Linked DNA regions of Homo sapiens. The protein of the gene in region 2 interacts with the protein of the main gene of each other region in a pairwise test. Each region holds a gene or a part of one and is shown on either strand. Other genes may lie near its edges.

Evidence for each region.
Region 1: the proteins of TSHZ2 (region 2) and CNTROB interact in binary tests that used the Homo sapiens proteins (3 or more experiments, as listed by UniProt).

The regions. Positions count from the first base shown.
Region 1 is NC_000017.11:7,930,010-7,933,922, forward strand, and holds the start of CNTROB (centrobin), read left to right. Parts: upstream 1-2,196; 5' UTR 2,197-3,070; coding exon 3,071-3,340; intron 3,341-3,913. Other genes in the region: TRAPPC1 (trafficking protein particle complex subunit 1), read right to left, coding at 597-725, 1,002-1,140, 1,497-1,567, 1,722-1,820. UniProt on the Homo sapiens protein: Required for centriole duplication. Inhibition of centriole duplication leading to defects in cytokinesis.
Region 2 is NC_000020.11:53,255,054-53,258,966, reverse strand, and holds part of TSHZ2 (teashirt homolog 2), read right to left. Parts: coding exon 2,404-3,913; 3' UTR 2,396-2,403; intron 1-2,395. UniProt on the Homo sapiens protein: Probable transcriptional regulator involved in developmental processes. May act as a transcriptional repressor.

The DNA.
Region 1 (3,913 bases), on a different chromosome or scaffold from region 2:
GACCCAAGGGCTGTCAGGCTTCCCCCGGCCCAGTGATTCTCAATCGGGAGGGAATGTATCTCCCAGCGTACTTTCGGCAAGGTTTGGAGATATTTTTGATTTCATGCCTGTGCTATCAGCATCTAGTGGGTGGTGGCCAGGGATGCTAAAATCCTACAAAGCACAGGACGGTCCCCACAATAAAGAATTATCCAGCTCAAAGCATCAATATTCCCACGGTTGAGAAACCCATCCGCAAAGCCACTTCGTGGCCCTCCAGGGGGTGTGGCTGCCCTACTTTCCACCTTCATGCGTGGGGCAGGACTGAGAGGGCCCTCAAACCAACACGCTCAGGCCGCAGAGAGTGACAAAAAGTTTATTCTGTGCTTCTCGCAGCATTAGGCAGGGGATAAAACTGGAGAGAGGGCCTGGTGTGGAGGTGGAGGGACTCTGTGGGCTTCACTCTGGTAGGAGGAGAGCATCAGGGCAGGCCTTTAGGCTGTTGCTCTGGGCAGGGGGTGGGGGTGCGGGGGCTTACAGTGGGGGCCCTTAGTTGGCACAGGTTCGGAAGGGCCCCAGGCAGACATGAATTCTCCTGAGACTTGAGGTAGGTTGCTTCAGCCAGCCCGGGCGGAGAAGAAGGGCAGAGAGCGAACATAGGAGTCCAGTCGGGAGCGAAAGAGCTCACTTTGCACAGTTTGGCCCAGCGGGCACAGGGGATTCTTCACCACCAGCTCCACATACAGCTATGGAAAGGGAAGATGTTAGAGCCAGGCTTTGGATACTTCTGGTTTTTAGCCCCAAACCTTGTATAACCTCAGGGGTGTGTGAATGCACAAGGAATAAGGGCTGGAAGGCAAGCCCTCTCTGAGGAGAAAGTGGTGGTGGGAGTTAAGAACCTAAGGGCCCCTGAGAAAACTCTTGAGTTGAGCAAACATATAGTAGGATTGGGGCAGGGGAGATGAGGGAGTCTTGGGGTTCTGAAGAGCTCTGGGGGATGGGTCCCTGGGGCTGGCACTGACCGCACTGTAGATGTGGTGCAGCACATCTCGGATGGGTCCCACGCCCAAGTCAGTATTCATGACAACTTTGATCCCAGTGGGCGTCTCGTAGTAATGGAGTTTGTAACGGCTAGTTTGGAAGGCCAGGAAGCCATCCTTCCTGCAGAGATGAGGAGGGTGTTAAAGAATGGGAGCAGAATCTCTCCCAAAGAGACACTTCTGATCCCCGCAAACATCGACTCCCTCTTTATCTAAACATATCCTTTGTAGAAGCCTGGTTGAGTAAAGACATCGCCCATCGTCACCCCTCAATTTAGCCCCCACCAACTTCTCTACTTTCAGACCCTCCCCACCCCCACTCCTGCCAGCTCCAGCACTCTCGCTCCGGACTCAGCCTCTCTTAAGTACCCTTTCCCCCCTCTGGAGGCCAATGCTCCTTCCACTTCAGAAAGTTTCCCCCATCCCCAAATTCCCAAGGCTAGCCCTCCTCCCAACATCTTCTCTGACTCCGCGTACATGTCTAGCGGGGACATCTTGCTGACAAACGAGCGGATAGAGAAGAGCATCCCGTACATCAGCTTATACTCCTGGAGGGAGAGGGGCAGAGTTAGCTCTCGGTTGATGCGGGAGATGGGGTGGGGGGTGGGAACGAGCTGGGGTTTGGAGAGGAGGGGCTGGGTTGGGACTATAGGTGTTTGGAGATGAGAGGTCGCCCGGGCTGCACCGGGGCCCTCTCGTCACCTCCTCCTTGGGAATCCCTGCTTGCTTCTTGCGGTGCCATTCGCTGTAGTGCAGACACACTCCATTCCGGTCAAACAGGTACAGGTTGTGGACAGTCATCTGCAGGGCAGGGAGTGTGAGCCTCGCTCCGGGGCCGCCCCCACTCCTTGGGCTCGGGTTCCCGGACCCACAGCCTTCCAACCAGGTGGGGACCCCACCCACGGACTCACCGGAACTGCTCCGAGTGCCCGTCAAGAGTTACTTCCGGTTTCCACGGAGCTCCGCCCCTTAGGGGGGTTCTCGCTCGGCCGCGGCTGGGCATTAACTCCGCTCCAGTGCTGCTTGTCAGACTCCGCCTCCCTCCCTCAGCCAATCTGTGGCCACCGGAGCCGCGCACGCGCGGCCAGGCGCTCGGGATACAGAAGTGATGTGAGTGTCTGCGAGCGTGGTCTCGCGGGCGGGTGACGTCATCGAGGCGAGAGAGGCGGAGCCGTGGACAGTGGGCGGGAGGCTGCCAACGGTTTTGAGCGTAGGGGGAGGCGTGAGAGGGGGATCTCAGGGGAGGAGGTCAATCGCTTGCCCCCCACTTTGGCAAATTGGGGACTGAGGACTGGAAGGGTGGAGAGTAGGCGGAACCAGGTGGTCGTCGGGGCAGAGGATCTCGGGCTAGGCTTGAGGGCGGCGTGCTTCTTAGGGACGACTTAGGGCGTGACTGAGGGTTCACAAGGTTTCTTTTGGGGTGGTCGGGAGGGAGAGATTCTAGGGAACAAGGAAGCTCGCTATGGCTTTCTTGCCAGGAGGGGTCGAAGGGAAAGTACAAGGGAGCTGGAGCTGACCCTGGGTAGAACGGGTGAAGGGATGGGGGAGCGTGAGGTTCCGCCCTCTCTTGAGACTGGAACCAATTGAGGGACTAGTAGGGCAGGGGGACAGAAATTGGGCTCCTAGTGGATTTGGGTCCGTTTCCGTTGGGACGTTTTGGGTGTGAGAACTTAAGAGCTCAGTTGACCGGGGATAGCCTGTGCCGGAGTTGATCTGCAGCTTCCAGCACTCGTAGTCGGGAAGAGGAGCTTCAGCAGCGCTGTTGTCCCACAGTAGGTCTTCTGTCCGCACCCGCTCTGCGCTGCACCCTCTTAACGCTGTTCCCAGGAGCTGGGGAAAGGGATGCTTTTGCCCACTCCCATGGCCCCTGGAACTGGTGGAAACCTTTCCTCTAACCAGAAAGCCTCGATATCCTTAATTCACCAAGGATCCTTGGCGTGGAGTCTTCCTCCCTTCTCCCAAGTCTTTCTCCGTGAACTTTTCCTCCTGGACTTTGCTAAAGCAGAACCTCCCAGCTCTTTGCTGTCTCCGGTTGTCTCTTCCCTGTATTCATGGCAACATCAGCTGACAGCCCCAGTTCACCCCTCGGGGCGGAGGATCTCCTGAGTGATTCATCAGAACCCCCTGGGCTCAACCAAGTGTCGTCTGAAGTGACCTCCCAGCTCTATGCTTCTTTGCGCCTCAGCCGGCAGGCGGAGGCCACGGCCCGAGCCCAGCTGTATTTACCCTCCACCTCCCCGCCTCATGAAGGGTTAGACGGCTTCGCCCAAGAATTGAGTCGAAGCTTGTCAGTCGGATTGGAAAAGAACTTGAAGAAAAAGGTGAGGGAAGTGTGTCTTGGAGACCACTGTGGCACTAGACACCAGAGAGTCTTGGGATTGGGGTTGGTAAAAATAAAAAGCTTTGATGAGATTTGAACTCTTCCTGTTGGATTTCATATTCCTTTTAACTGCATAGGCAGCCATGCTTATAAGGGAGGGAGTGACCTGGGACACCATAATTTGAAAATTATGAAACTTCCCAGTGTTTTTTTGTGAGAGACATCTCTGCTCCGAGTAGATAGAGCAAACCTATGGGGTAGGTTGGTGAGCTATTTCCCGTGCACTGGGAATGGGTAAGGTTTCTTGATCCCAAGAGGGAGCTAGGGACTTAGGATAGCAGCTCCGATCCTTCCAGCTCAACACTATGTTGATAGTATGGTTCCAACTTTGGCATGTACATCATTAAGACATAGCTTAGTCAACTACAACATGTTACAGAGAAGATAGTTATTAGTATTGTATAGAAAAGGTGTCAGAGTCAATTTGCAGACTGGTTAGGTCTTCCAGAGTTTGAAAATGATAGCCATAAGCCATACAGTCCTTACATTTGTTCTTGAATCGGCAAGAATCTCC
Region 2 (3,913 bases):
TTACGATGAACACAAACACAGCCAGTACCTGCACCATCTTTTCTGTTTACAAAACATACATACACGCCCATGGCTTTGAGTGAGTCCCAAACACTCAAACCTGTTTTTCTGCAATCCTCTCAGAACCACAGCCTAATGGTGCTTGTAAGGATGGAGCTTTGGTTTTGTATAATGAAAACACCAATACGGTGCTTTCGAGGTCCAAATTAGATATACTCATCCTGTACAAATGCAGAGAAGTGCCAAAATGGCTATCTTATCTATGTATTTAATGGATTTGGAAGTACCTTTTGTATATGTTTTTCCAAATTATTGGTTCACCTTTGAATCCCTAGAACAGGTATCATACACTCCAGATTCTGACTGACGATGGATCAAGCTTTCTTTTCCTTACCTCTCCCTATCTACATATCAGAGTGTTTTGGCAATTATATTAATTTTCTAAAAAAGATTACAAACCTAACAGGTGGAAAAGTGGTCTTTGTTATAGTACAAATAAATATTACCTATTTGTCCTCTTCACCATGGTTTCAACCCACCACTATTGGATTTGAAATATCTTTCTTCTCTCTAAGTATTCTCTGTATGCCCCCCCTCTTTTTTTTTAAGAACCAGGAAAACATAATGGCAAGTTATTTAAGATTTAAAATGTTATGCAGCAAATAAATAGGACGCTGTTGAACCCCAAGCTCAGGTGTGAATTCAATGGATGCATTTTGGCTTTTCTTTCAATTCCGTGAGCTGAACAAATCATGCTTGGAAAGAATGAGAAGAATCTGCCAATAACACATTCAATCATCATGATAAAAACATGCAAACCAAAAAGATAGTCTTCATTTGGGTCTAGATAGCAATTAGAGTTATAGGAGGACTCCTCTCCATCAGAAGCGTAGATCGCCTCACTCAGGGGAAAGTCCCAGGTCAGATATTTTAACTTTTTATTTCATCTTGGCCATCTTCACACCCAGTAAACCCCTCTGTCTGATGTGAGGCAAGCCCAAAGCCATGCCATGTAAATACCGCTCTCTACCTGGAACTCTCCTAGTGTCCTACCTTTCTAGCTTGTTCTGAAAGTCTTCTATTTGTAAACCAATGCTCTGACAATAGGGTGTGGTGAGCGATTATATGTTATTAGTTTTTCATATTCGATCGTGAATTAAGAGCTAATTAACTAGGAGCAAATCCGTAACTTAACATGACGTCAACTGGATTGGTCAGCACAGAAGGTTTAGTTCAGGTTGGGTTCCCATCTTGGGGAATGGCCGAAGGTGGAGGACCACCTGAACACATAGGAGGGCCCTTAGTGTATGCGGGCATCATGCTGGAAGGGAGAGAAAAAGAAGTAGAGAAAACACAAATGGGCAAATGAAAGAGATTGGTTAAGACCCAGCCTTGCTTATCCTCAACATTTGAAAATGGCTGGTGAAACTAATCTGCCAAAGCATTTGACCTTGGTCTCTGCCCTGTTTCCTAAAAATGACACAAATGGTCTGGGCATGGTTGACTATATAAGGCATGGAACTTCTATGACACATGATGCACATTATCTTCAAGCTATGGGACTCCATGCACATTAACATAAGTGTACAGAAAGCCATTTGTTTCTTTATGTGAAATGAAACCTCAAGGGCACACATTGCCTCTATCTTTGTTAAAGGTGGGCTCTAATACTGGTCTATCCACAAGAAAACCAAAAGATGAAAGAAGAAAATAAGCTTCTTTTCATCTCAATGTTCTGCAAAGAAGAATATTTTTCTACCAACCTGTTAAGGGCACATGCTCATTCATAGGACACTTAATGTAGAAAATAACCAAAGGGAAGAGGTGGAAGGTGGCAATTACTAAAAGTAAGCTGCAAAAAAGCATTCATTACAAGTAACAATCATAAAGACAACTTTAAGCTATTCATGAGCTGATTAAGGAATCTCTATATAGTAACTACTTCTAGCACTCTCCAATCTTTCTTCCATTGCTCAACTTTTTGTCACTTTATAAGTCATTGGCATTGCTATGGAAAGGTGGGGTGGTGAAATGGAATGGTGACAGAAGTTAGTATCTAATAATTAAAATGAAAGATAGCCTTGGCTGGACACTGGAGCTTGCCTTGGGTAATTCAGGATTATGGATGATGAAGGCCTAAAAAAAGCAGTAGTAATCTGTGAACTTTATCTCTCTAAACCCGTTTTATTCTAGTTCCCAGCTCTAAACTAGAGGACTTAAGAGAATGATTAGGACTTAGTTTTCATGTTCTGGTCTTTCATTAAAATAAATCCTACTCCAGCAAGCTACTATCCTGCTTGGCATTGGGAGATGCTAGCTGCCTCTAAGCAGACCCATCTCCCTGTAAGAAAGCTCCTCACCAGGCTAATCGCAATGCCTCAGAGCAAACCCATACCTGCAGAGCTATTCTTCATCCACGTCTGTTACAAACTGTGAATGGTGTTCGGGTGACTTGCTGTGCGTTTTGCTTAGGTGGAGTTTTACCGCATGTTTGCTCACAAATGTCCGACAGCACAACTTACACTTGAATTTAGAGTCTGTGTCCTCTTCGGCAGCTATTGTTTCTGGAGACCTCTGAGCCGACGATACCCGGGAGATCTCTTGCTCCACCTTGCTTTGCTGGTCCACTGACAAGCGGGTCATGTCCTTCATTTGGAAACCCAGGTGAGATTCTAAGTGACTGATGTAGGTAGAAGGGGTTCTGAACTGGGAGGCACAGTCACTGCAATAAAAGATGGGGTGGCCTTTGTCCATGTTTTTCAGAAATTTTGTCCCGCCCGTTTTCCTAAGCTGGTACTTGACGTTGGCCAGCCAGTGACTGATAGTGGTCATTGAGAGTCCCGTAAACTTAGAGATTTGCATACGCTCTTGTGGGCCCAGATCAGACAGCAGGTATTTGCCCTCTGATGTCTGGAAGAGGCTCGAGGCAAACTGGGCTTGTAGAATCAGAAGATGCTGAGGATTCCAGTTGGACTGCCGGCCTTTTCTTTTATGCAAAGTTGAGACTTCACTGGAGACATCCTCAAAGCGCCTGACATCCATTTCCAGCTTCATGGGGGGGACCCTGGAGGAGGAGGCTGGCTTTGGGGTGGTGGCTTTGGGGAGGACTTTGACCATGTCGGCGATGTCAGACAGAGCGTGCTTCTGAGGTGGGGACATACAAGATTGTGCTTGCGAGGACTCGGCTTTCTTGCTTTTGGACTTGGTCAGGTCAATGGGCTGATCGCTGTTCTCAAACAGGTAGCGCCTGGACACGCTGGCTGACCTTGTGGAGGCAGGACTCAAGACCGGCTTGTCCATGACATTGAGATTCGACTTGTGGAACATGGAAATTGTGCTTGAACTTGGGCTGGAGCAGGAAGGTGAGCGCAAGGGCTCCGTGGCTTTGCCCAAGTGATTGTTCAGGACGGACTGCAGGGCGCTGAGTGGGTTGATGCATGGCAGGGCCGGGGCGTGGTTGGCGAGGGCGCACCCATTGCTCAGAGCAGATGTGGGCTCCAGGGGCTGGGGTTTCTCCTTCTCGCTGCCCTCTTTCATCAGCTTCTCCTCCTCCTTCAGGGGACCCAGCTCGGTCTTTTTGGCTTCTGGAGGTGTTTCACTTTTGCGGAAAGAATCGCCCTCACTGTGGCTGAAAGATGAGGCCTCTTCGTGGGGACTTTCTTTCCCACACTCCTTCACCGCTTCATCTTTGTCTTCTGACTCTTTCTTGACTTGAGTGTAAGGGGCCAGGTGTGTGGGCATAGAAACCAGTGGCATCACTTTCCACTTTGGTGCAATGGGCCTCAGCTTGTTGGTGAGATTAGGCCGGATCTGCAGTACCTGGGATCCCATAGGCAAAGGCGGCTTGGTGCCCTCAGACAGCTGGTAGGCTGCGTGGATGCTGGGGTAGGCACTCCAGCTGGGGGCCCCGTTT